Linked DNA regions of Homo sapiens. The protein of the gene in region 2 interacts with the protein of the main gene of each other region in a pairwise test. Each region holds a gene or a part of one and is shown on either strand. Other genes may lie near its edges. The genes, in order: ABI2, KRT33B, HTT, CCT5, SPRED1, ARFIP1 and NF2.

The links.
Region 1: the proteins of KRT33B (region 2) and ABI2 interact in binary tests that used the Homo sapiens proteins (3 or more experiments, as listed by UniProt).
Region 3: the proteins of KRT33B (region 2) and HTT interact in binary tests that used the Homo sapiens proteins (3 or more experiments, as listed by UniProt).
Region 4: the proteins of KRT33B (region 2) and CCT5 interact in binary tests that used the Homo sapiens proteins (3 or more experiments, as listed by UniProt).
Region 5: the proteins of KRT33B (region 2) and SPRED1 interact in binary tests that used the Homo sapiens proteins (3 or more experiments, as listed by UniProt).
Region 6: the proteins of KRT33B (region 2) and ARFIP1 interact in binary tests that used the Homo sapiens proteins (3 or more experiments, as listed by UniProt).
Region 7: the proteins of KRT33B (region 2) and NF2 interact in binary tests that used the Homo sapiens proteins (3 or more experiments, as listed by UniProt).

Annotation. Positions count from the first base shown.
Region 1 is NC_000002.12:203,397,894-203,401,393, reverse strand, and holds part of ABI2 (abl interactor 2), read right to left. Parts: intron 1-3,500. UniProt on the Homo sapiens protein: Regulator of actin cytoskeleton dynamics underlying cell motility and adhesion. Functions as a component of the WAVE complex, which activates actin nucleating machinery Arp2/3 to drive lamellipodia formation.
Region 2 is NC_000017.11:41,367,014-41,371,111, forward strand, and holds the start of KRT33B (keratin, type I cuticular Ha3-II), read right to left. Parts: upstream 2,801-4,098; 5' UTR 2,738-2,800; coding exon 2,390-2,737; intron 978-2,389; coding exon 895-977; intron 1-894.
Region 3 is NC_000004.12:3,126,681-3,130,180, reverse strand, and holds part of HTT (huntingtin), read right to left. Parts: intron 2,918-3,500; coding exon 2,577-2,917; intron 258-2,576; coding exon 134-257; intron 1-133.
Region 4 is NC_000005.10:10,256,780-10,260,279, reverse strand, and holds part of CCT5 (T-complex protein 1 subunit epsilon), read right to left. Parts: intron 2,170-3,500; coding exon 1,977-2,169; intron 1,895-1,976; coding exon 1,745-1,894; intron 1-1,744. UniProt on the Homo sapiens protein: Component of the chaperonin-containing T-complex (TRiC), a molecular chaperone complex that assists the folding of actin, tubulin and other proteins upon ATP hydrolysis.
Region 5 is NC_000015.10:38,322,336-38,325,835, reverse strand, and holds part of SPRED1 (sprouty-related, EVH1 domain-containing protein 1), read right to left. Parts: coding exon 3,427-3,500; intron 1,074-3,426; coding exon 1,027-1,073; intron 1-1,026. UniProt on the Homo sapiens protein: Tyrosine kinase substrate that inhibits growth-factor-mediated activation of MAP kinase. Negatively regulates hematopoiesis of bone marrow.
Region 6 is NC_000004.12:152,880,954-152,884,453, reverse strand, and holds part of ARFIP1 (arfaptin-1), read right to left. Parts: intron 3,492-3,500; coding exon 3,270-3,491; intron 1,732-3,269; coding exon 1,574-1,731; intron 1-1,573. UniProt on the Homo sapiens protein: Plays a role in controlling biogenesis of secretory granules at the trans-Golgi network. Mechanistically, binds ARF-GTP at the neck of a growing secretory granule precursor and forms a protective scaffold.
Region 7 is NC_000022.11:29,690,633-29,694,132, forward strand, and holds part of NF2 (merlin), read left to right. Parts: intron 1-3,500. UniProt on the Homo sapiens protein: Probable regulator of the Hippo/SWH (Sav/Wts/Hpo) signaling pathway, a signaling pathway that plays a pivotal role in tumor suppression by restricting proliferation and promoting apoptosis.

The DNA.
Region 1 (3,500 bases), on a different chromosome or scaffold from region 2:
AGCAGACAAGGGAGAAGGGGAGGGCAAGAGAGAAGAGGAGGCGGAGAAATAAGCAGGTGGAGAAGAAAGCGGAAAGGGGACAGGAAGGTAGAGGAGGAGGAGATGAAGGTGGAGGAGGGCAAGAGGATAGCAGAGGGGAAAGGAAAGGAGAAAGAGAAAGGGAGAAAAGGAGGAGATAAGTGAAAAGGAAAAAAAAAACACTTTTGCTAAACCCAACAGGAAGCCAGAGGGCAAAAGAATCCACTGAAACATTTCATGGAGGTCAGCCTACTGGAGAAGAGGGGAGAGTAGAGGAGGGGGGACTGGAGGAACAGATGATACCTGGCACACTCATCTATCCATTTGTGCCTAAGGTTATCCTGAAATTTTTTAAATTCTAAAATAAACTACTTGAAACACAGTGAGATAAGACTTATGTAATATGGAATTTGATGAATGCTTGATTTGTTGAAATCTTCATGATCAAACACTGCAGTCATATCCTCTTCCAGGCTTCATATTTCTCAGCTGAGTCTTACCATCTTTATTCTACCTTAATATGAGACTATCTTCTTGGTAATTTTAATTAAAAGTATTAGAGGAAAACAACACTTTGACAATTTTTCATCTTGTCTATGATTATAAAATGGTTTTATATGACTAAAATTGTTCTACAGGAGCTGAAAGTTTACCAAGCTTAGATTCATATGGAGTCATATAAGGATTATAAGAGCACTCAAGGCTTGTTATAACATTTAAACATCTTACATGTGTATCAAAAACTTAAGCACTCAAGCTTAAACATAATCCACTATCAACTGAGAAGCCTCTGTAACCATGATAAAAATGAAAACATATAAACTATGATTTAAAAGGCATATTTAGTTATTTGAACCACTGAATACAATTAGCATTTCAGTAATTAATCTATAGCAAACTAATACAAACCTACGATCAAGTTAAAAACATCTGGATTAACATCATTATGAATTTTATATAGTTAGATCTAGTCTAAAACCTCACATGGGCTGGGCATGGTGGCTCAGGCCTTTAATCACAGTACTATGGGAGGTGGAGGCGGGTGGATCATTTCAGATCAGGAGTTCAAGACCAGCCTGACCAACACGGTGAAACTTTGTCTCCATTAAAAATACAAAAAATTAGCTGGGTGTGGTGGCTCACACTTGTAATCCCAGCTCCTCAGGAGGCTACGGCAGGAGAATCACTTGAATCCAGGCAGCGGAGATTGCAGTGGGCCGAGATTGCCACTGTATTCCAGCCTGGGTGACAGAGTGAGACTCTGTCTCAAAAAAAAAAAAAAAAAAAAAAAAAAAAGACACTATTCACACTATTAATGAGTCGATTTACCATTTGGGGTTTTAAAAATATATATACCTAATTATCATAAACCTAGCGATAAAACCTGAAACTAAAAACTTCTAGAAGAAAACACAGAACAAAATCTTTATGACTTCAGGTAAAGAGTTCTTAGATATGCCATCAAAGCACGATTCATTTAAAAAAATTTTGAAAAATAACACTTAATAAAAATGAAGAATTTCTGCTATTTGAAATACAACATCAAAAAAATAAATGAACAGGCTGGACCCAGTGGCTCACGCCTGTAATCCCAGCACTTTGGGAGGCTGAGGCGGGCGGATCACCTGAGGTCAGGAGTTCAAGACCAACCTGGCCAACGTGGTGAAACCCCGTCTCTACTAAAAATACAAAAATTAGCTGGGCATGGTGGTGGGTGCCTGTAATCCCAGCTATTTGGGAGGCTGGGCAGGAGAATCGCTTGAACCCGCGAGGCGGAGATTGCAGTGAGCTGAGATCCTGCCATTGCACTCCAGCCTGGACACCAAGAGTGAAACTCTGTCCGCCCGCCCCTCCTCCCCCCGCCAAAAAAATAGAAAATAAGCAAACGAATCACAAAATGGAAGAAAATATTTGTAACTCATAATCTATAAAGGACATATATTTAGAATATAAAAGAACTCAATGATAAGGAAAAAAACCCTATTAAAAAGGTGAGAAGGAACAAAACATTTGAACAGATACTTCACCAAAGAGGATATACACATGGCAAATAAGCACATGAAAAAAATGTTCAATATCATTAGTCATTAAGAAAATGCAAATCCAAACCACACATGTAATGAGAAACCATTACACATGTATTGGAATGGCTAAAGCTAAAAAAGGCAACACCAAGGGCTGACAAGGATGCAACTGGAAACTCACACATTGCTGCTGGGAGTGTAAAATTATACAGCCATTTTGGAAAACAACTTGGCAGTTTCTTATGACGTTAAAAATTTACTTACAATATAACCCAGCAATTCTATTCCCTAGGTATTTACCTGATATAAAAACCCATGTGCACAAAAAAAACCCTGTATGTACATGTTTATAGCAACTTTATTCATAAGCACTCAAAACTAGAAAAATCTAAATGTCCTCTGAGAAAGGGATAAACAAATTGTGGTACATCCCCATACAATACAACACTACTAAGCAATAAAATGTAATGAAATACTTAAACATGCAACAACATGGGTAATTCTCAAATGCATCTGGCCAAAAAAAACAGATCAAAAAAGCTACATACTATATGCTTTCATTTATGTTATACTTAAAAAGGCACAACTTTAGAGAAAAAAAACACATCAAGGGCTTACCAGGAGCTGGGAGTGGAAGGGAAGGACTGACTATAAAGGGGGCATGGAGGAAATTTTTGCGATGATAGGACTGTTCTGTAACTTGATTGTGGTGGCAATTACATGTCAGTACACCTTTGCCAAAACTCACAAACATATATGGTATAAAGGGTGAATTTTACTGTACATAAGTTATACCTTGGTAAAAAGAAAAACAATTGCTTGGTAACTCAGGTACTGTATAAAACAGACTATCCTGATATAAATTATTAATAAGACATTTACCTTGCTTTTTGTTTTAAAAACCACAGTTAATTATCCCCTCACATAACAAATGTTTATTTAGTGAACACTGAGCCAGGCACCTGTTATTCAATTAATATTTAATTACTAAAACATAGACTCTCAGTTGGGGGTGATTTGTCCTTTCTGATGCATTCTTTATCAAAGCAGGAGCATAACGAGATTCCTATATTTAACTAGTTAGTTTGGCCTAACAGTTGTATCTGGATCAAAAAACACCCCATGTTTACATTTATCTACTGCAGAAAGCTTTTCTTTAAAAGTCATATAGAAGGAATCCCACAAGACATCACCCAAAATCCATTTTGGCTAAAAGTGTCTTTTAAAACATGTAAAGATCTTATATATGTTTAACATGTATAACAGCAAAGCTGAATATAAATGCCATGAAGTTCTTCACTGGCAAGTGGAACACTACGGTGATTGATATGCTTTGAATCTGTGTCCCTGCCCAAATCTCATGTTGAATTGTAATCCCCAATGTTGGAGGTGGGGCCTAGGGGGAGGTGACTGGATCACAAGGGCGGTTTCTCATGGTTTAACACCATCCCCCTTGGA
Region 2 (4,098 bases):
GAATTCAGAGTTAGAGCCAGTATTCTCATTAAATGACTGTAGATAGATACCTTTATCTCTCTGAGGCTTGATTTCCTTAACTGTAAAATGAAGACAAAACTAACACCTTATAGGGTTGGACTGAAGATGATATATGTAAAATTATGTTGTAAAATGTAAGATCCCAGGAAAATGCAAAGGATTCTCATGATTGTAATAATGGTCATACCTAAAAGTATTGATTGATTCTCTGAAAGGCAATGGATTTTGCCTCCTGTTTTTGTGGTTTAATAACTTCTTTTTGGGGGGTTGACAGTGACTAACGTATACAAAGAGACCAATGTGAAAATCACTTTCAAACTTACTCCAGACGTTGGGTTGAAAAGGAGTAAGAATGGATGGTGTCTTACAATCAAACTTAAAGCACAGGGCTGCGCACAGTGGCTCACGCCTGTAATCCCAGCAGTTTGGGAGGCTGAGGCGGGTGGATCACTTGAGGTCAGGAGTTCAAGACCAGCCTGACCAACATGGTAAAACCCGGTCTCCACTAAAAATATAAAAATTAGCTGGGCCTGCTGGCGCATGCCTGTAATCCCAGCTACGAGGAAGGCTGAGGCAGGAAAATCACTTGAATCCGGGAGGCGGAGGTTGCAGTGAGCCAAGATTGCATCACTGCACTCCAGCCTGGATGAGAGAGGGAGACTCCATCTCAAAATAAAAAAATTAAAAAAAAAAACTTAAAACACAGAATCTGAGCACCTATTGAAGAGGCTTTGACATTTAACCTAATCCTAACCCAATGCAAGAATCCTCCCAATAGAAATTTCTGCTTCCACATTCCAGGATAGGGAGCTCATCACTTTGTAATTCAGCCTGTCCGTTACTAGACTGCTCTGATGGTTAGGAAAATCTTACTTGGTTCTGAAGTCATCTGCAGCCAGCTTGGCATTGTCGATCTGCACCACCAGCCTGGCATTCTCAGACTTGCTGCACAGGATCTGGGGATAGGATTAATCATGAAATGGGTTATACTAAGAAATGCCTTGTGCCTTAAAGTGAAATGCTATTTTCTTTCAGCCACATTCCTCCCAAATAGCTTTGAGTCCTTTCAGATTTTCAGCTCTGAGATAAAAGGAGGATTTGATCATAAAACTGATCATTTCAAAACCAGGACAACCAATGTGAATTCATCATGAATTCTATTCTTATCTGCTTCTGGCTTCCTGCAATAATTAGGTTACTGGGTATCCAACCCTTCGGTTGGGTGACCAACCATCCCAGTTAACTTAGGACTGAGGGGTTTCTGGGATGCTAAAATGGGAAAAATCCCAGGCAAGCCAGAACAACTTGGTTATCCAACACATTCCACCTGCTAACTTCTCTCCACTCTCCCCTCATATTGCCCTTGTTCATGCCTTTGCAAAAAGCTTCTTGCTGTACCCAGAATGCCCTCACCCACTAGCAAGACCCCTTGTGTAACCCACATACTTAATCAATAACACTTCTTATGACCTTTGTGTGATCATTTTGTTTCCACATCTATCTCCCCTGTTAGACTGTGAGCTCCTGAAGGAAGGAGACTGTCTTACTCAGTACATTATCCCCCACCCCAGCACTGTGCCTAACACTCTCCAACTCTGGGTAAATAAATGAATGATATTCAAATAGCACAACCCCTTTCTGGCATCTAATTTTCCAGATCTACAGAACAGTGGGCAGTCAATTCCCTCCCAGAATCAAGGGCTTGTACAATTGGATATAAACTCCCACTCATCCTTCAAACCCCACTCAGACATTGCCTCTTCTGGGATCCCTCCCAAACCTACACCAGGTATTCAGTCCCAATTCTCTGTGGACTCTTTACTTATATCTACTTCTCTTCCAGAACAGATGGCCCCATATTGTCATCTGTACACATGGCTGCTCTAGAGGATGGTCCATGTGTCTGTAGATATTGCTGGAGTCAACAGCTCTCTTGTGTTGCCATAAATGCTATATTTTGCTACAGCTTTGAAAGGCTTTAAATATTTGAAGATTTACTTAGGAAATTCTTAGCATAGAAAATAATTCAGGTGCATACTTTTTGAAAATGCGGTAATGCTCTGAAAACAAAACCAGGGTATCATAATCAAACCAAAAAATCAGATATTCTGGTTTGGAGTAAGACGCCATATAAGATTGCTATGACTGATTTTGGTCTAATGCTTCACTCTAACACCAGCCTGCATCCTTCCTTTGTGGCTCTACAACAGATTTTCTAAGACTACTTGATGTCATACCTAAGCCAGTGAATCTATGTCTTTATCATTCTCAGCATTACTGTGAACAGACTTAGATCCATTCACAGTTTAGTATGTCAAATATAGATAAGTAGTTCATTAAGCTGGCAGTGTGGTGCCCACCTCCTCACCTTCTGCTGGAGCTCCTCAATGGTCTTGAAGTAGGACTGGTAGCTGGGGCACAGCAAGGGCTCCTGCTGCTGAGACCGCTCCCGGATGAGGTTCTCCAGCTCCGCGTTGTCCCGCTCCAGCTGACGCACCTTCTCCAGGTAGCTGGCCAGGCGGTCGTTCAGGAACTGCATAGTCTCCTTCTCGCTGCCATTGAAGGAGCCCTCGCAGAACCAGTTGCAGTTGCTCACATTGGCAGGGATGTTGCAGGCCCCGGGCAGGGTGTAGCCGTGGCAGCTGGGGGGCACACAGGGCCGGGAGGAGCAGCTGGTGCGGCAGCTCAGGCTGGGCAGGCAGAAGTTGTAGGGCATGGTGCAGGGAGGCAGTGGAGCTCTGGAAGTCAGTTTCAAAACCTGATTCCTTTTCCCTGGGATAAGCCTTGGTCCTTTCCAGGGCTTTATATTCTGTTAGCAGTGGGTGTGGCAACCATGTCAAGTATTCCTCCTTTTTACCTCCTTTGCTGATTTTTCCATTTGTTATTTAGCCACTTCACCTGAGTCCTATACCTCATTAAATGTTTTACTCTGGCTTCTTGCTAAGTCAGGACTCCTCACAAAACATGCTGATTGGTTAAGTAAGAGCTTCATGGTTTGGCTTCAAAGTGACCAACCTTGCCTGTAGCAGTGCTTATCCATGGGACATTGAGCTAGAGTGACAGCTGGGCCCTGTCCCCAGAGTAGGGGGCACATATGTGCCTCTTTCTCCTAAATGAGGAAAGGCTTGTGTCTCATCCAGTTCATATTCAATTAAGACTCTGTGAGAAAAGCCATGTAAGGAAACCCGTCTAGAAACTAGACTATGTGATAGGGAATCCTGGAAGCTGAAATGAGAAAGGACTTACAAGGCCATTGGTTCAAGGCCCATTTGCAGTTCCATCCAGGCAGATGGAGGCAACTCTACCCTCTTCCTATGGGGCTGCAGGAAGCCACCCACCTCCGTTTCTACTAGTATTCAGTGTTCACAGAACATTAAGAAACCTAAATTTTGGGAGCACCTACTCTGCATGAAGCACTGTGCTCCATGCCTGTGCACAGCGTGACTCTGTCATTGGTGATGGGTCCTGCTTGCTGAGCCTCCACTGTGCACCAGGCACAGTGCCAGGCACCTCATATGCACCAGCTCCTTCAGTCCTCTCAAAATGCTGCAAGGGTTTGTAGATAAGGACCCTAAGCCTCTGAGAGGTCTCCCAAGGTCACAGAGCTCCTACATGATGGAGCCAGGGTTCAAATACAGATCTCTCTAATTCCAATGTCCACACTCTGTCATATTACATGTCTCTCTCTTCCAATCTTTTCAGTACTGAGATGCAATAATGCAAAAAATACAGATTGAGCTCCATTGAGCTCAATCAGTGCTGACAATATCCTAAATTAGAATGGGCCAAAAAATAACAAGCCTGTTTTTTACTTATTAAAGAACCAAAAGTCACTTCTATGCTGAAGGAAGGAAGTTTACTAAGTGAAAATGCCTCATACCCACTAGAAGCTTGAAAAAAAAAAAAAAAGGAAACCCTTGGTTGATCTGAGGGAGAAATACCCAAGCCTAGCTCTCCAAAGGATATGACCCTGAAAATCCACCACTATGTCATGTGCATGAAGTGGCATTTTATGACCATTGGCACATTTTGGCAAGCAGATGCTCTACTCTCATGCATTCCAGATGGAACTATGAA
Region 3 (3,500 bases), on a different chromosome or scaffold from region 2:
TGGTCATTTTCATCAGCTATTCAGAACTCAGAAAACAGTATCAAAGGACTTCTTCTTGGAAGCAAAGATATAATTAAGATGTCCAGGTCTGAATACAAACCACTTTGTAGCGCATCACCTGTAGTCCACATACCCATGGAAGAGTTCCTGAAGGCCTCCGAGGCTTCATCAGGAAGAATACCTGTGGCTTCCTCATCTTCATCCTGGGGCTGTCCAATCTGCAGGCCCAAATACTGGTTGTCGGTACCGTCTAACACCTAAACGGTTCAAGGGGGGCTGTGAGAATTTTGAAGTGTGATCACCAAGAGACAAGCCCTCCAACATGGAAGTGCAATGAGGAAAGAGCACATTTTACACACAGAACACAAATGTACTCATCTGTCATTTATTTCAAGGCACAGAAATGCACGCATGGAAACTGCTAAGAGCTTACTGATCACTCATTCCCACTACATTATGAAAAGCTCTATTAGCTCTAAAAACTCCAAAAAAATTCCAATGTGGACATTTCTTTTTAATATGAAAAAGAAAAAACCCATACAAAAATATTTGTCTTCACAAACAAATTTTACAGCAAGTTGGAAATATGAGGACAAAGCTTTTCGACAAAAACCTAACAATATAACAGGTTATCTCCTAAATTGCAAAGACTAAATCTACTAAATTTAGGGTATGGTATTTCATATGTTTAGCCATCAGCTTGGGGCATGATTCCACATCACAAGATGTTTCATGTCCACTTGAAATGTCCTGTGTAATTTACCTAAAAAAACTGAACAATGGACTACCAGCAAATTATTACCAAAATACTATTTTATTAAGTTTGTTAACTACTATACTATTAAGTAAAACACTCAATGATATGAATGTTTTAAATTAAAATTGGAATGTAAAAGCAACTCCATTTCTGGGTATTTAGCCAAAAAAATGGAAAGCAGAGTCTCCAGGAGCTATCTGTACACCCACGTTCATAACAGCATGATTCACAATGGCTAAAACATGAAGCAATACAAGTGTCCATGGACAGAGGAATGGAAAAGCAAAATGTGGCCTATCCATACAATGGAATAGTATTTGGCCTGAAACATTAGGAAGTTCTAACATAGGCTACAACATGCATGAGCTTTGGGGACATTATGCTAAGTAAAACAAATACTGTGTGACTCCTAAAGTATATGAGAACCCAAAGTAGTCAAATTCAGAAGACAGAAAGAAGAATCGTGGTTGCCAGGGACTTGGCGGGAAAGGAGGAATAGAGTTCAATGGGAACAGAGCTTCAGTGTTACATGATCAAAAGGTTACAGAGATGGGTGGTAGCAATGATTCCATGACATTATTTAAATGTATTTAATACCAGCGAACTGTATACGCAAAAAATGGTTAAGAACATAAATTTTATGTTACACATATTTAACCACAGTTTTTAAAACTGAAAATAAAATGGAGTATAAAACTCAACATGGACTTGTAGCAAACATTATTAGACTATCCATGAGGGTTTTTTGTCCACTAACTTAGAGATGAGAAGTGCTTAAACCTATGCCGCTATCAAATGGGAAATGTTGTAAAAGTTTTTTGAAAAGTCAAAAGTTCTTAAAATAATGCACAGTATTAATCACATTTCATTAAGACCACAGATCTGTTTATAATAGGCTCCTTAAGGATTTTTAAAAATAATTATTTAACCAGGGCCCAACAAGGCCTTAAAAAATGTAAAATGCACTCAATTTTAGCAGAGTTCATATAATCAACTATTCCAATTTTTTACCTCAGTGTTCAACACAAAAGACACTAAGTTGTTTCCTTCAGTGAAGGTATCAGATGAGGTCAAGCTCTCCATTAATGATCTAAGCTGCGCTGTCAATAGGGGTATTAGATAACAAGAGAACAAGCAGGAGGGTTCAGGTCTAGGTCTCCAGGGAAGAACTCAAAAGATGGCAGGTGGCAGGGCCGGGCATGGTGGCTCACAACTATAATCCCAATACTTTAGGAGGCCAAGGTGGGTGGATCATCTAAGGTCAGGAGTTTGAGACCAGCCTGGCCAACATGGTGAAACCCTGTCTCTACTGAAAATACAAACATTAGCTGAGTGTGGTGGTGCCCACCTGTAATCCCACCTACTCAGGAGGCTGAGGCGGGAGAATCGCTCGAGCCTGGGAGGCAGAAGTTGCAGTGGGCTGAGAACGAGCCACTGCACTTTATTTTTTTATTTTTTTTGAAATGGAGTCTTGCTCTGTTGCCCGGGCTGGAGTGCAGTGTCACGATCTCGGCTCATTGCAACCTCTGCCTCCCAGGCTCAAGCAATTCTCCTGCCTCAGCCTCCCTAACAGCTGGGACTACAGACATGTGCCACCACGCCCAACTAATTTTTGTATTTTTAGTAGAGACAGGGTTTCACCATGTTGGCCAGGCTGGTCTCGAACTCCTGACCTCAAGTGATCCGCCTGCCTCAGTCTCCCAAAGTGCTGGGATTACAGGCATGAGCCCCTGTGCCCGGCCTCCACTGCACTATGGAGTGAGACTCTGTCTCAAATAAAAAATAAAAAAAAAGATGTCAGGCCCCTCTGCCCACTTACAATTTCAGAACTGTCTGAAGGGGTAACAGCTGAATCAGGCCCTTCGGTGGTGGTCTGGGAGCTGTCGCTGATGGGCGACGAGGCCTGGGTCCCATCATTCAGGTCCATGGCAGGGTCAGATGGGACGGCGCTGACCTGGCTGGAGCTGTGGCTCAAGATATCCTCCTCATCCCCATCAGTGGCAGAGCTTGTCAAGTCACAGCTGGCCAGATCCACTGAGTCCGCCTGCAGTGTGTGCTGTGACCGTGGCTGTTCTGTGATGATGTCATGACCTGCTGACCCTGGAGTGGAAACCCCTGAAGAAGCAGCCAGCTCTCCACTGATCTCATCCTTCACTGAGGCTGAAGACAGAGAAACACTCATTTGTCAAATGGCGAGAGAAAACATTCAATAGGGAATCACAGGCTTGCAAAATAACGAACAGTTCCACCGTTATCAAATGTTTCAGCTGCACAGCATCCTGAAGATGCTGAAATGCAGGACAGCAGTGCATCCTTCAAGCATCTCTCACACTGCCTCCCACTACAGTACCCACCTTATAAAATAAGGCTTATCAGAAGGTGATATTCTCAAATGCTGTTTCACTGCAAAAACCGAAGTTCAAGTTCTTAACCGACTACTCCAAGCCTTAGCTGGAGCAATATATAAAGACATTTGTAATTAAGGGGCAGCCTAGTCAGGGGCGCAAAGCTAGGCGGTCACAGACACGCAGGCCCTCTAAGCAAGCAGTGGTCAGAAACAACTGTCAACTCATCTCTCTGGGGTGGGCTTGCCTTCTTCCAAGCCACATTCAAGATCTCGACTCCAGTCCTATTCTCCTGGAAGATAAACCTGTAACACATTTTCCTAGTTGACTTTCTAAATTACCATTTAAAAACAAAAAAGGCTATATAAAAATTATGGCAAAAAGGTCGACATGAAGCT
Region 4 (3,500 bases), on a different chromosome or scaffold from region 2:
ACCCCGACCTGCAAATGGCAAAGTCACTTTTCCCAATTAGGAGGGCAACGATCAGGCTGCCCACCCCACCTCTGGTGCTCACCTGGGACTGCCACACCGTGCCCCACAACTCTGGCTTACCTGTCTCCATCAGGCCTCCCAGGCTACCTGCTACTGCCTGGCTCTCCCTCTCTTCCTTCCCTGACCCTCTGGAACTCAGTCCAGAACAGCAGCCTCCTTATACAATCTCTCCGTCACAACCCCGGAAAACCAACCTGCCCCTGCAACCCTCCTCAGATGGCAGCTGCTTTCCCTCTCACATGCTCAGAACAGGAGAGGGTCCTTCTTGCTCCTCAGTCACCTGCAGTGTTCCTCTTTGGGTCCCTGCCTCTCATTCTTTAACATTTTACTATCTAGCCCCATCGTCATTCCCTTCTCATTCTCAGCAACCTGCGCCTCACCAGCACGATCCAGTAACATCCCTGGCCTCTCAATTTATCTGTGGCCCCCCAGCACAGCTGAGGCACCATTCTCATGAAAACTGTCCCACCGGCCCAGATGATGGCCTTTTATTTATAAGCTCCCGCCAGCATGCTTCAATCCCTGAGGCTGGCTCTTCCTTGTACAAGCCAACAATGTTCCTGGCTCAGGAGCATCCCCATCTGTCCTCAGCCTGGAATGCTCCTCCCCCAGGGGCACTGCTCTCACCCTATGTTGGCCTCTCCTTACAGGTCACCTCTCTGACCAGTGTCTGTAATGGAGCTGTACCCACCTTTCTCTTATCTGTGTCTCAAGAGCACGAGCTTGGCTTCATTCCCTGCTGTACCTTTAGTGCCTACAACAGAGCCTGGTATGTCGTAGGCACCAAGAACCGTATCATCAATGAGTACATTCAACAACTTTCCCAAGAACAGACATGAAAATAGTCTCTAGTTGGTTTGCTATGATAAATAATACCCTAACCAACCCACGTTCCTGTCTTCTTGAGTACTGGTGTTTTCAACTCCCAAGGACGCAGCCCCCAAAGAGGAGTTGCTATGTCAGAGAGAAAGCACACCTACGCTAAGGTATTCATGAACCCAAACTAGACTTAACTGAGCAAAGAACTGGGATTACTATGAGTGCATTCTGGTTTAACTCCAGTTACTCATTAACTCTTGCCTAAAAGGTATAGTCAGAAATCTTAAAGGCAAGGTAAGCTAAGTTAAATTTGTCCAGGACGGCAAATATAATATGTACAATTGAAAGCACGGCTTTAGGTAACAGGGTCACTTCTTTCAGGACCCTGAACACACTACCATTTTTTTTGAGACAGAGTCTTGCTCTGTCGCCCAGGCTGGAGTGTAGTGGTGCAAGCTCAGCTCACTGCAACCTCTGCCTCCTGGGTTCAAGCGATTCTCCTGTCTCAGCCTCCTGAGTAGCTAGGACTATAGGTGCCTGCCACCATGCCTGGCTAATTTTTTGTGTTTTTAGTAGAAATGGCGTTTCACCGTGTTAGTCAGATGGTCTCGATGATCTCACGATCTGCCTGCCTTAGCCTCCCAAAGTGCTGGGATTATAGGCATGGCCACTGCACCTGGCCTGAACACGCTACCATTTTAAGACAAAATTAGAATTCTTCCCTGTTTATGCCTTTCTATGCAATTTGGTTTTTTCCTGTGTATGTTTTAGAACTGAAGAAAGACTACACATATTTACTAACCAAACCTAACTAACTGTACCCTTTGGGAGTTTAAATTCCACTGAGGACTCTGGTAAGACTTACTTGTTGAATCATCTCTTCAAATTTCTCCTTTTCGTATTTCTGAAGGGCTTTATAATCTTCGACAGAGGTCACATCCAGCTTATGCTTTGTTTTTGGTTTGGGTGGTTCAAATGGACATGTGAGAATTGCAATCTTCGCATCTTCCACTTTCTATGGGGGAACATAAAGACATTTTAATTGGTGGAATTAAGAGTTAACCAACAGTGCGAAGCTGTGAGATGCAATGGCTCACTTTTGGCATCTGTGGGTGACTGAAATCCTTGTCCACAATCACGCCCTTAATCAGTTTAGTGTCCTCCAGCCTGCCGCCCACTTTGCCTTCTACTTTGATAAGCTCAAAGTCAACGTCTCTCCGCTCCATATCTGCTACAGTGAGGACGGCATTCACAGCAATCTCAGCCATCTGTCGGTGACAACTGTTGACCCTGAGGAAAACACCACAAAACAAACTTCATTGGTTTCACAATTACTGCAACCAAAGCAGGCCACATAACACAATGTTACTCAAAGATATAAATCAAACGATGTTTTGAGTCTTCTAGAGGGGAATGCCATCTCAACCTGCATTTTCAACAGTCTGGGGCAGATTCTTAACCTGTGATCCATGGGCCCTAAAGGGGACTGTATACTTAGATAGGAAAAAATTACATCTTTATTTTCGCTAACTCTGAAATTTACTATTTCCTTCCATTATGAATGTACTCAAGAAACCACTGTAGTCTGGCATGAATTAAGGTCTTCTTAGAATGCAGCACTTTTACAGAATACTGTTACTATTTTACAAGTTCAGAACAGAATGGGAAAGGTAAGTAATCACTCAGGAAGAGTCACTCTTATCTCAATGAAGTGTAGCACTAACCAGGAACTGAAAGGACTGGACAGGGCATTTAAACTTTCCAAGAATTCACCACAACATCCATTATAGATGGAGGGTGTTACCTTTTTGAAAGCTTTGAAACATGTGAATAGACAGTTCAATAAATTAATTTTTGAGCCAAGAAAAACAACTAGGGAAACCTAGCACTTGAAATAATGTCTGAAATCACAGGTTATCTATAAAAGAGAACCATGAAAGTAAACATGTTGTATCTTAAGTAGATGACTTAATACTTGCAAACAGAACAAGGCCAACTTATAAAGCAACAAGAAAACTGATTTGTACACTTCAAGTAATGATGATGTCCTCCTTTCATGAGAAAATAAGTGTTATACTTGTGACAAGAGGCTACCCCTAGGGTACTCACTCTTGCCTAGGGAGCTAGTCTCTGCTGAGATCTGTGGTTAGAGGAGGACAGCAGGCATTGCTGAAGGCTTCTGCTCTAACATAGGCTTTGCTCAGGGGAAAAGGCAACAGAAGCAGACACTTTTCCTGCATTTTCCCTGACTACTCTGAGTTTAGAAGATCCCTCATTCCTTTTTGCTAAAACCACCACAAGCACACAATTGAAAACATCTCTCACTGATTTAATATAATGTAATAAAGCAGCTTACACTGGATTTTTATGTTATATTACGGCAACAGACCTTAAGTCTTTGGCATTGTACATAATCAGCGCACCCCTTGGCTGAGGTTGCTTAGAGTCTCCTGGGAGAAGAGCTGTGTCTTAGTGCCCATAAGACCTGGCAGTAAGCCTGGCAAACGGACATTACACGAACGCTGAAAACACCAGAGACAAGTCGCTTTCAAGACTCTCTTTACTAAATTATAATTTTGGATCGGCAATTTGCTGAATAAAAAGTGGAACCCACCCCCAAT
Region 5 (3,500 bases), on a different chromosome or scaffold from region 2:
GCTCAGGGTTCCTCATAAGGTTGCAATGAAAACATGCCACAACTGGTCATCTATTAAGGCTTGCTTGGAGCTGAATAACCTGCTTCCAAGGTGGTTCACTAATATGGCTATTGTCTGAACGCTTCAGTTCCTCACCACATGAATATCTACACAGTGTTGCTTGAATGTCCTTTTAATATGGCAGTTAGGCATCCTCCATAATGTGGGTGACCTCACGCAATTAGTTGAAAGGCATAAGAAAAAAGATTGAGGTCCTCTGAAGAAAATAGAATTCGGCCTTCTCATGACTGCAACATCAACTTGTGCCAATTTTCAGCGTGCCTGCCCATTCTGCCAACCCAGCCCACAATCTTATGAACCACTTCCTTAAAAAAGAAAAAAAAAACCCCAGAAACTTTACTTTCTATATAAAGATTGATATCTCTTATCTGAAATGCTTGGAACCAGAACTGTTTCAAATTTCAGAATATTTGTATGTGCATAATAAGACATCTTAAGGATAGTACCCAATTTAAAGATGAAATTTATGTTTATACACCTTATAACACACAGGCTGAAGGTAATTTTATACATGATTTTAAATAATTTCGTGCATGAAACAAAATTCTGACTGCATTTTTAGTGTGATTCATCACATGAGGTCAAGTGTAAATTTTTTCTACTTGAGGTGTCATGTCCATACTCAAAAAGTTTCGGATTTTGGGGCCAGGCACGGTGGCTCAGGCCTATGATCCCAGCACTGTGGGGAGGTGGGTGGGTTGCTTCAGCCCAGGAGTTCGAGACCAGCTTGAGCAACATAGCAAGACCTTGTCTCAAAAAGAAAAAAAGTTTCAGATTTTGGAACATTTCAGATTTTAAATTTTCAGATGAGGGATGCTCAACCTGTATTGGTTCTTTTCTTCTGGAGAAATCTGACAAATAGAGTGTCTTAGAAATATTCTTAGTAATTGATAAGTTTATTGAATAAGGCTAGTGATTTCTTCCACATCCTTTATGTTTACAAATTCCTTCCAAGCCATTACTTACTTGTAAGTCATCTGCCCCTTCAGCTTCATTTTTTGATTCGGGGCATCCTAAGAAAATAGATAAAAGTTAATTAAGTATAGAATTTTTGTCTTAGAGTCCAGTATTAATGACTAATTGATTATGTCATTATAATACTTTAGAAGACTAATCAGAGATCTTTCTGGACTGCCTGGCAATTAAGGTACTGGCCACTTGCATTTGCCCCTGTTAGAATAATGGAGAATAATGTAATTATTTCCCTCCTCTATAGGTAAATTTCCAGCTGCTTACTAACGAGATGTTTTCTCTGAAAGTATACTATCTCTAGCTACCCCTGCCCCTAGTTTCTCCCAAATACTCAAAATTACTAGGCAGATTATAATTACATTGCTCTGGTGATGCTAAGATGTGATTTATTCAATTTTTCTAAATGCTTTGACCCAGGAAACAGTATTTAGTACCCATAACCAGGATTTTAGTTGCTTTAGCTAAGATGGAAAACAAATGAGTTTTAATCCACTATTGACAGTTAATGGCCAATTGTTGTTACTGACTTTTTTGCATCAACGTCTCTGTACAGATTTTCATGCTGTTAAGAGTACCTTTAGTTTCAATAAATTAATAAGAAAGGATTTGTCCTAGCAAAGTACTCTTAGTTCATGCTACCCTTGAGAGGCACAGCTTAGCACGGAGTAGGCATGAGATAAGAAGAAATGCGCCCTTTGGAAAGAGCAGCATATTTTATCTTTTTGTCACAGAAGGTCGAGTAAAAGCAATTTGAGATTGTTGAAAGTCTATATAGCAGCTGATAATAATGCTAGCTAATGTTTTTTAATGTTCAAAAATAACAAGGCAGACTAAGTACTGTAGTCTACTCTACCTAGAAGTTTGTAAGCTACTCCTTATAAATCATTTTTTAAAACATTAAACCCAATCTGTTTGATCCTAGTGAAAGAGGTATACTGTTATGGTACATGAGCATAAACTTAAAAGTAATTCAAAACTTTAAATCATATAAATTCCAGCAGCCATGGATACTATTTTTCTCTCTCTTTAAAGCACTGGTTCTTCAAACCTGGCTAAAGGTTAGAATCAACTGAGGAATTGTCAAAAAATACACTGATGCCAGAGTATGGCGTCAAACCAAAATATATCAGAATCTCTGTGGAATGAGGCACAGAACATCATGTATTTTTTTTTTTAAGTTTCTTATTTTTTTTTCTTCAAATTCAAATTACAATTCCTTGACTAGAGAACAATTCTTCACCATATTTGAACTTTCTTGGAGTTTTTGAAAAATAAGGGATGACTCGACTCTATTCCCCAGATAGATTCAATTGGTCTGGAGTGCAGACTAGTCATTTTAAGCTTCAAAAGCTTCCCAGGTGATTTTAATGTGTAGCCAAGGTTAAGAACACTGATCTAAGGAGAATTTATGGGGTCTTACAATAAAGACAAAATGGCTACTATTACTTCATAGTAATTTTTTCTGGATCAGAATAAAAAATTACTCATTTACCAAATTCTAATCTTTTAAAGTAGCTAAATAAATTACTTAACTACAGTTTTATGCACTATCAAAACAGATTTGTACAATGTATTTCCATGTTCTTGCCTGTGACTGGTCTCACAGTTTATGTTTTCAGATTTTCTTATTAAAATGACATCTTCAAAATAACACAAATCACAACGTAGTCTAGCACACTTTCAGTTACTTTATATAGAAAGTTAGTTAAATTGAAATAATTTTCCTCCTAATTAGAAAAAAAAATCAAGTCTTAGTTCTTCCTTTATGGGAAGAAATGGGTTTTAATGTGATTTTTGTTTAAGTAAGCATAAGCCAGTCTTACATGAAAAAACATTATTCTTCCCTTCAAAACCTGTATGCTTTTGAGTTAATAATTTTAATAGACTGGCAAGATAACAAAGGAATAGATGAGCTTGTGGTCTCTGCCAATCCTCAATAATGAAATCAATCAAGTAAAGACTTTTGTCATGGAATAACTAGAGTCTACATACATTTGAATATTACAAGTTCTATATAATTACCCAAAAAAAGGATGTGACTGGTGTCATACATACACAAGTAGAATACCAACTGGGATTCTCGCAGCTGTACATTTCTATTCCCTCTTCCTTCAAGCTCTTATTTTAAAACATTTGAATTATCTGAAGTCAGCTGTTGATGGACTCTTCAAGATAATACATGCAATTGACATAGACTATGATGTGACAAATACAAATCACGTTAAGGAATCTATTATTTTATCTTCATCTATTGTGAGGTTTCAAAGCCTGGTCACATATCACAAAAGCTGACATGGTTAAAGTGTGAAAACTACTTTGGGTCAACTTTAAGAAAGATAACCTCTACTATATATAACCGATAAATAAATTAAGAAAATAGTCAAGAATACCTACCTTGAGAAATATCCTCTATAGCTCTTCGGATACCTCTATCAAAAGCCCTAGCATCAGCAGGACTTTGAAACGTA
Region 6 (3,500 bases), on a different chromosome or scaffold from region 2:
AAAAGAAACAGTACCATTATGAACAAATTAGGACATTATGAACAAGGAACAGAAAAATTTAGAAAAGGATCAAGTAAAACTTATATAAATGAATTTTAAAATTCATATACATAATGAACCCTTTGAAAAATATAATTTCCATGAAAGGATTTACACTGAGACTGAAACACCAATTACTGAGAATGTTATTGAAGAGATTTCCACGGAAGGCTATCTTACTAACAGCTATCCTCACCCTTACCCCTCCATACAACCACAGCTGTTTGACCTTCATTTTCAAGTCAATAAGAATCTCATACTTTAATACTAAATGGAAAATGACAAAATAAACATGGTATGGGACAGAAGCATCTCTTCCTGTGAAAACATCAAAAATTAACTTTTCAAAATGATTTGGGCTTTTACTTAATTGAAGTGTAAGGAAATATATATTTAATAAGCACTCAATTGCAAAAATACTAGATGAGTTTGGAGTTTTTTACAGGTATTTCTCATACCATTAAACTAGGATAAGAGGCCAAAGAGTAAAGTTATCCTTCTAAAAGGTAAAGTTTATCTTCAACTATGCATAAAAAGTATAATGGAAAATAAGAATTTTGAGTGCTCAAAAGAAAAAAACCTCAAAAGGGACTAGAATGATACTTAAATAAAAGGGGTAGGGCATATGGGGAAAAAATTGGGCCTGGAATCAAAAGGTGAAAAAGGCTATTATAGGTCTGCCATATTTTAGACCCTTCAAAATATTTATTAATATATTTATTAATATATATTTTGTTCACCATTTAACAGGATAGTTATGAGACAGGGAAACTGTATATATACATATATATATGAATATGGATATACAAAAACCCATTAAAATAGGATGTATAAAAACACTGCATTATGAACAGTTATCAAAATACAAGTCAAATATTTAATTTATATAAAAGGTAAAATTTGAAAGGGTTTGAAGGCTTGTTATAATCTGGATAAATGGAAGATGACTGATATCCTAACAAACAAAAATCATGGAGGCAAAATGAGCTTATTTATTCAATAGAAACTGAAAGTATGGGTCTGGCTATTGTGGAAGCAGTGGTAATAAGGATGAAAGGTAAATTTAGGCGAGAGTATAGAGGACCATGTAATACCTACCTGGTAGAACATAGGGCCCTGTCCTCTTCTAAAGAAGCCAGAGCTGGGAGATCCTCCATTTCCCTACTCACTAGAAGGCAGGGTTTGGGCACATGACCAAGGCTCAATTAGATAATCTCAAGGCAATGAAGCAAGTATTCATGGGTATTTAGGAAATTATTTATGGTAGCTGTGGCAGCATCAAGTACTAGAGGCACCCAGCATAGGGGTTCTAATTAGATTCTTCTGAGGCTTAACTTGGCTTTGGTTCTTGGTTGTTTCCAGAATCTTGTTCTCTCCCTTTCTGCCAGGTCTGTAGAGGCATCCTATAACTTTCCAGTACATTTTTTTCCTGCCCATATTGGCCAGAGTTGGTTTCTGTTGTTTGTAACCAAAAAATTAACTGAATTATATGCCATCTGTAAAACAGACAACACAGTGAAAATGTATACCTTACCTGGCACTTTCATACTGTTTCACAGTCATTAATGTATCTTCAATGGTTTTATTCACCAAAGTGTTCACACTAGCAATGAAAAAATTAATGGCCCCAAGAAGAGTCTCTCCATTTTTAGCCAGCAGTTTCTGGGTATCGGCATTATAGCCAAATTCTTCCTAAAACAAAGAAGTCACCTTAATTTATTCAGTAATAAATCAGTAAAAGTGACTTAAAAATCTCAAGCACGTCACTAATGGGAAAATATGTGATTTAGATAGAGATCTAGCTGTAGCAGTTTTACTTTTCCTTTCCGTCTTTAAGAATCGAAATCACAGCTAGCCATATAATTACTGAAAAAGTCTAATAAACCAAAATTGTCATCAGCTCAGATACATACCTAAAAGCTAAATAATTTTTTTAAGTTACTTTGTAGTAGAAACAATATTTTCATTTCTACATTTTGTTTCTATTATACTATAAGCACAGCTGTTGGAAAGAAAAATAGAGCAGATTATTAATCAGAGAAACTATAACTTTCACAGCCAAATTAGGTAATAATTGGTTAAAACTTTCAGACATAAAACAAAGTGCATTTTTTTTGTGTTTTGACTGATTCTCCTCAAAGTATAAATATTAACAATACATATTTCTTTGTAAACTTGGTGACTAGCTGACTCCCAAGCTCAGCTCTATTTAGGCACACAACTGAGGAAGGATCACTCAACACCAGCTTTAGTTCATTCTTTTTGAATAAACTGCATCTTGGTGCAGTAAACATTACACATGACTCCTTCAGATATGGCAAGAACTAACTCTAGCTCTGTATATTCAGCAGTGAAAGCTTTCCAGTGCAAGTTTTACTAATTAACAGATTAATCAGGATGCACCTAACCAAATAAAAAACCGATCACATATTCTAAGATGTATCATTTAATTTGATAATTCTCCAGTTTGTTACAAAACACTTTTCAATTTCAGTTGAAACAAATAATGTAATATTAAATTAACTAAAATATTAGAAGATACAAATTTAATGCTATTGCAATAGCTGTAATTACGTTTCTTAGGTGACAAAGTATTCAATAATTCAGAAAATAGCAGGAAAGTAAAATTATCCTTATTATGCTAAAACCATTTTCCATTTAAGAGATGTCCATGTAACTCCACTCTGTACTCAGTCTTCAAAATATTATAGACCTTGATTTGTTGCAAATATTGGCAGATAAAGGACCACATAAAAAGATTACCAATCAATGCATGTAAAAACTAAAATGAAAAGCAGGACAGCTTAAGATTTTTGGCACCAAATTTCCACAAGCTAAGTTACACACTTCACTGAAGTCTACATAAATGTTACTGGAAATAGAATAATACAGAAAACAACATTTTTACAACTTTTAGAAAAAGTTAACAGAACATATTACAACAGTAACCCTTGATATTGATTAAGGAGTAAAAGGCAAAATAAAATATTAACAAACAGGAAGAAAAATATGAAAGATTTATATACATATGATAATTCATAAAAAGTAAAGTTAACAGAAGTCATATCACTTTAAGAGGGCCTTCTTAAAGTGATATGAAATATCTTAAAAGAGAATCTCAGAATTCCATCTTCATTAAGAGTTCAGCAAATCACAATAACAAATTACCTCTTAGAATACTTCTATTATCATTTTCTCCCATCCCTAATAGTTATTTAGAATAATCTTACATGAAGTTCTAGTGACTTCAAACTCAGGTCAGCAAATGCATCTCCAAGTTGCCTTTGGGTATGTACCATCTGGAAAAGCTGGGTCGACAATGTTTGAGCCAGTTTTAAAATATTTTCATATTTTTTCTTGTTATCCCTTAATATATCAATCTGAGCTTCAAGTTCAAGGTCCACAGTTCTTGAGCCACGGCCTAGCTTCTCAGAGATAATCTGTCGAGTACACTAAAAGTG
Region 7 (3,500 bases), on a different chromosome or scaffold from region 2:
TCCTCAGAATGGAATTGGATTAGTGACAGACTTGAGCAGCCGGTTCAGTCGAGAGAGAACTTAATTCCTCCTGTGTTATTCACACGGCTGATTCTAATCAGATGTGAAGAGACAGCTGGAGGAGAGCAGCGGGTCAGCCCATGCCTGGTGCGGAGGCTTCATGTTCTTGTAGGCATCTTCAGGGAACTGGCAGGAGCGCTTTGGGTTGGAGACTCTGAGCAGGGCCCTTGGGTTTATAGCCTGCCCAAGGAACTGGGCCTGGCTGCGGGACTCCCATGGTTGGACCTTGTCTAGATTCAGTGAAAGTTTTGAAGGACAGTGCATGACAGACGTCACTGGTCAGGTTCACCAGAGCTTGGCTCACTTGTCTTCAGAAGGATTCAAAGGCAGTTGACCAGACTTGGCAAGTCCCAGACTGGTGCAGCCACTGTCCTCGAGACCCTGGTTGTACACCCTGAGGTGCTTCTGCTTCATTACCTGCTGAAATTTGGAGACCTCTTCTTCCTGGATAACCTTCAAGATACTCATTGTGCATGCGAGGAATTCCCCGCCCTCCTGGGGGGACTCCACTCCCCAGGCAGGCAAGGTTGGGCAAGGGGAGGGCTGTTGCTGGATTGCCAAAGGGAGCATGGACATTTTTGTTTGGAATTCAGGGTGGGAATGGGACTCACCAGAGTGGCTTCAGTGCTCAACTCACAGTGCAACATAGGACAAGGTGAAGGCCTTCTTGGGAGGCCTCTTCTGGCTCTAGCAAGCAGGTGTTGCTGGGCAGTGTAGAGGGACCCAGGCCGGTTGCTGAGCAGGAAGATGTACCTAACACTGATGGGCCTGCACACCTTAGGGTATGAGAGCATCGCAGGGGAACCAGGAAACTTGTTAGCTGGTTTTCATGTGTTTAAAAAGAAGACTCGGAGGCAGAGTTTATTTTATGAAGGGCTAGCTTTTTGCCATTTCTTCTGAGCTTTTGCCTTTTCCTTTATGAATACTTCCTGCCTATGGGTGTACTGTAAATGTAACAGCCAGTGAGCTTTCTAGAAGCAGCAGATGGTGAAAGATCCACAGGTGAGGAGCCTGCCCACTGGAGGGGCGAGACAGTGCCCAGGCAGGGCGTGCAGGTGGCAGAGCTGTTTGCATGCTCCGCGGGGTGGCTTCCCAAGCTCTCTGTAGAAAAACTGCCTGAGGGCAAATGGCTCCACTGAGCTGCTACCTGCAGGAAAGAAGCTCAAGGGCTCTCCTCGTCTCACTGCCTGCCTTCTTCACCTGCTGGGAGGAGGGCATTGTGGTGTCTGAGATAAAGGATACCCCCAAGGTGGAAGCAGAGCCATGGGGGTGGCCTCCAGCAGCAGGGAGGAGCATTGTGCAGTAAATTCTGACTCCGGGGCTCCTGTGGGGATTGGAACCCATAGGAATTGCACAATGAGGGTAAAGGATGGGGCGGCAGCAGCCAGGTCTGTCTAAGGGGCGAGCAGCAGTGGCCGAAGGCTCCCAGGGCCCTCGGGCAGCAGCCCTTGCTGACCAGTGCAGCCAGGTCGTGGCTGCCTCCAGCTGGTGGGTCTGCCTTCCCCTCTGACCGCCTCAGTGCCTTCTGGAGGACTGTGGCTCTCTCTCCTGCCCAGTGGCTGTGGTGCCTTCCTACTTCTGTGTGGGCAGACTGATTTCCCTCTCTACCTTTACTTGTGGCTGAGGCGAAGCTCCTGCTCTTGCAAGATAAGAGGTGGGGCTGAGGCGCTGCAGTGCAGCTCAGGTGGGGCTCAGGAAGCACCCCACCCACCCCAGAGCACTCTGCATCCTAATAAGCACATGCTCGAGTCACTGGAATCTGGTGCTGCTGGCAGTGCCAGAACCCTCCCCTAGCACCTCGAGGGGACAGCCAGCATGCTCCTCGGGTGGAGGATCCAGGAATTCTTGGAGCCAACATTGCACAAATGGGCAGGAGCCTCTCAAGGCCCCCACAGCCTGGGCTCCCTGCCTGGGGAAGTGGCCAGGCTTCATAGGGGCATCACTTGGCCCGCCTGGTAGGCATGGAGGCCAGTGCCATACGTGACCTTGTTGTTGCCTGCACCCCTTCCTAACGAGCACCCTGCTCCCCACTGGAAGGAGAGGGGCCAGGGCTCCTCCCTCCCCAGGGAGGGGAGAAACGTGATGTTGCTATTAGCAATAACAGCTGCCGAGTTCCCACCATGCGCCAGGTGCAGTGTTGAGTGCATCACACGCGGTTCCCAATTCCTCTGCCTGTCACCCCACGAGGAAGGGGCTGCCATCACGCCCGCTTCACAGTGAGGAACTGAGGCTAGAGGGGAGCAAGTGACCTGCCCAGGGCCACACAGCTGGTCAGTGGCCCAGCTGGGCCTTGCACCAGGCAGCTGACTGTGCCTGTATCTGACTCAAAGTGGCTGTTCTTTTCAGAAACCTGAGCGGAGATACTGGGCTCACATGCTTTCATTTAAACCCTCTCTCATTTTTGCCCCAGTAGTTATCTGGCAGCTAAATCTCTTCCTCCTTTCTTCCCCAGTGACCATTCTGGTTCCCATCATCACAGGGCACATAACTCCTGGCCCTTCTCCTCTGATTACATTTAGGGAGAAGCCCATCCTGATGCAGCTCCCTTCTAGAGGGAGTTCCATTTAGGCAAAAAAGCGCTCTCCATTCCCATCAGAACCGGGCTTTCCAAAGGGCTCTGAAATTGGTTCCACTGAAGAAGGCAGCTGAGCTGCCTCCCCACATTCCGCTTGTTAGTCGGGAACTTCAAGGCCAAAAGATTTGGCAGGATTTAAAGAGTTGCTCTCAAGCTGTCTCATTCTGAGCACACTAATGCTGTCTGTCTTCTGATGGTGAAGTGGTGGGTTTGGAGTCTCCCTCCCCTGCCCTTTATGGAGCCGCCGATAGTACCGAGGACTCTTCACATGCAGACTCGAGGGGTCCAGAGAATGGGCCAGACCATCTTGCCTGCCCCATGGCAACCTCCAGAGGAAAGAGGCTCAGAGAGGTCAGGGGTGTCTGCAGTGAGCTGCTGATGGCAGAGAGTGAGCTCTCGGACCTTCTCAGCCGGGTGTGGAGCTCTTGCCTCTCCCGCGAACCTCAGTTTAGTTATCTTCATAGCCCACGTCCTGGTCGCTTAACAAACATTGAGCTCCTGATCGGCACATAACACTAAGCCAGATATTTGGGGGATATGAAGATGAATGGTACAGACTCCCTCCCCTCCACCCCCGCACTCCTGTGGGAAGTCCCGGAGCTGGAAATGGAACACAGTCACACCCAAGGCATTGATTTCAGGAGTCAGCAGAGAGCAGGGAGTAGGGAGAGTGCTGGCTCCAGATGCTTCTATCCAGGGAGATGCTGGGAAGTGGCCCAGAGTCAAGGGCTTAGGAGGTTGCAAACCTCACTATGCCAAGAGCTCGGTCCCTGATCCACCCCATCCCCTTCCACATCTCCCTGACTGTCCTTCTTTACATTTGCTGGGCAGAGTGCCACCTGTGTGCACCAGCCCTCCCTGCCTG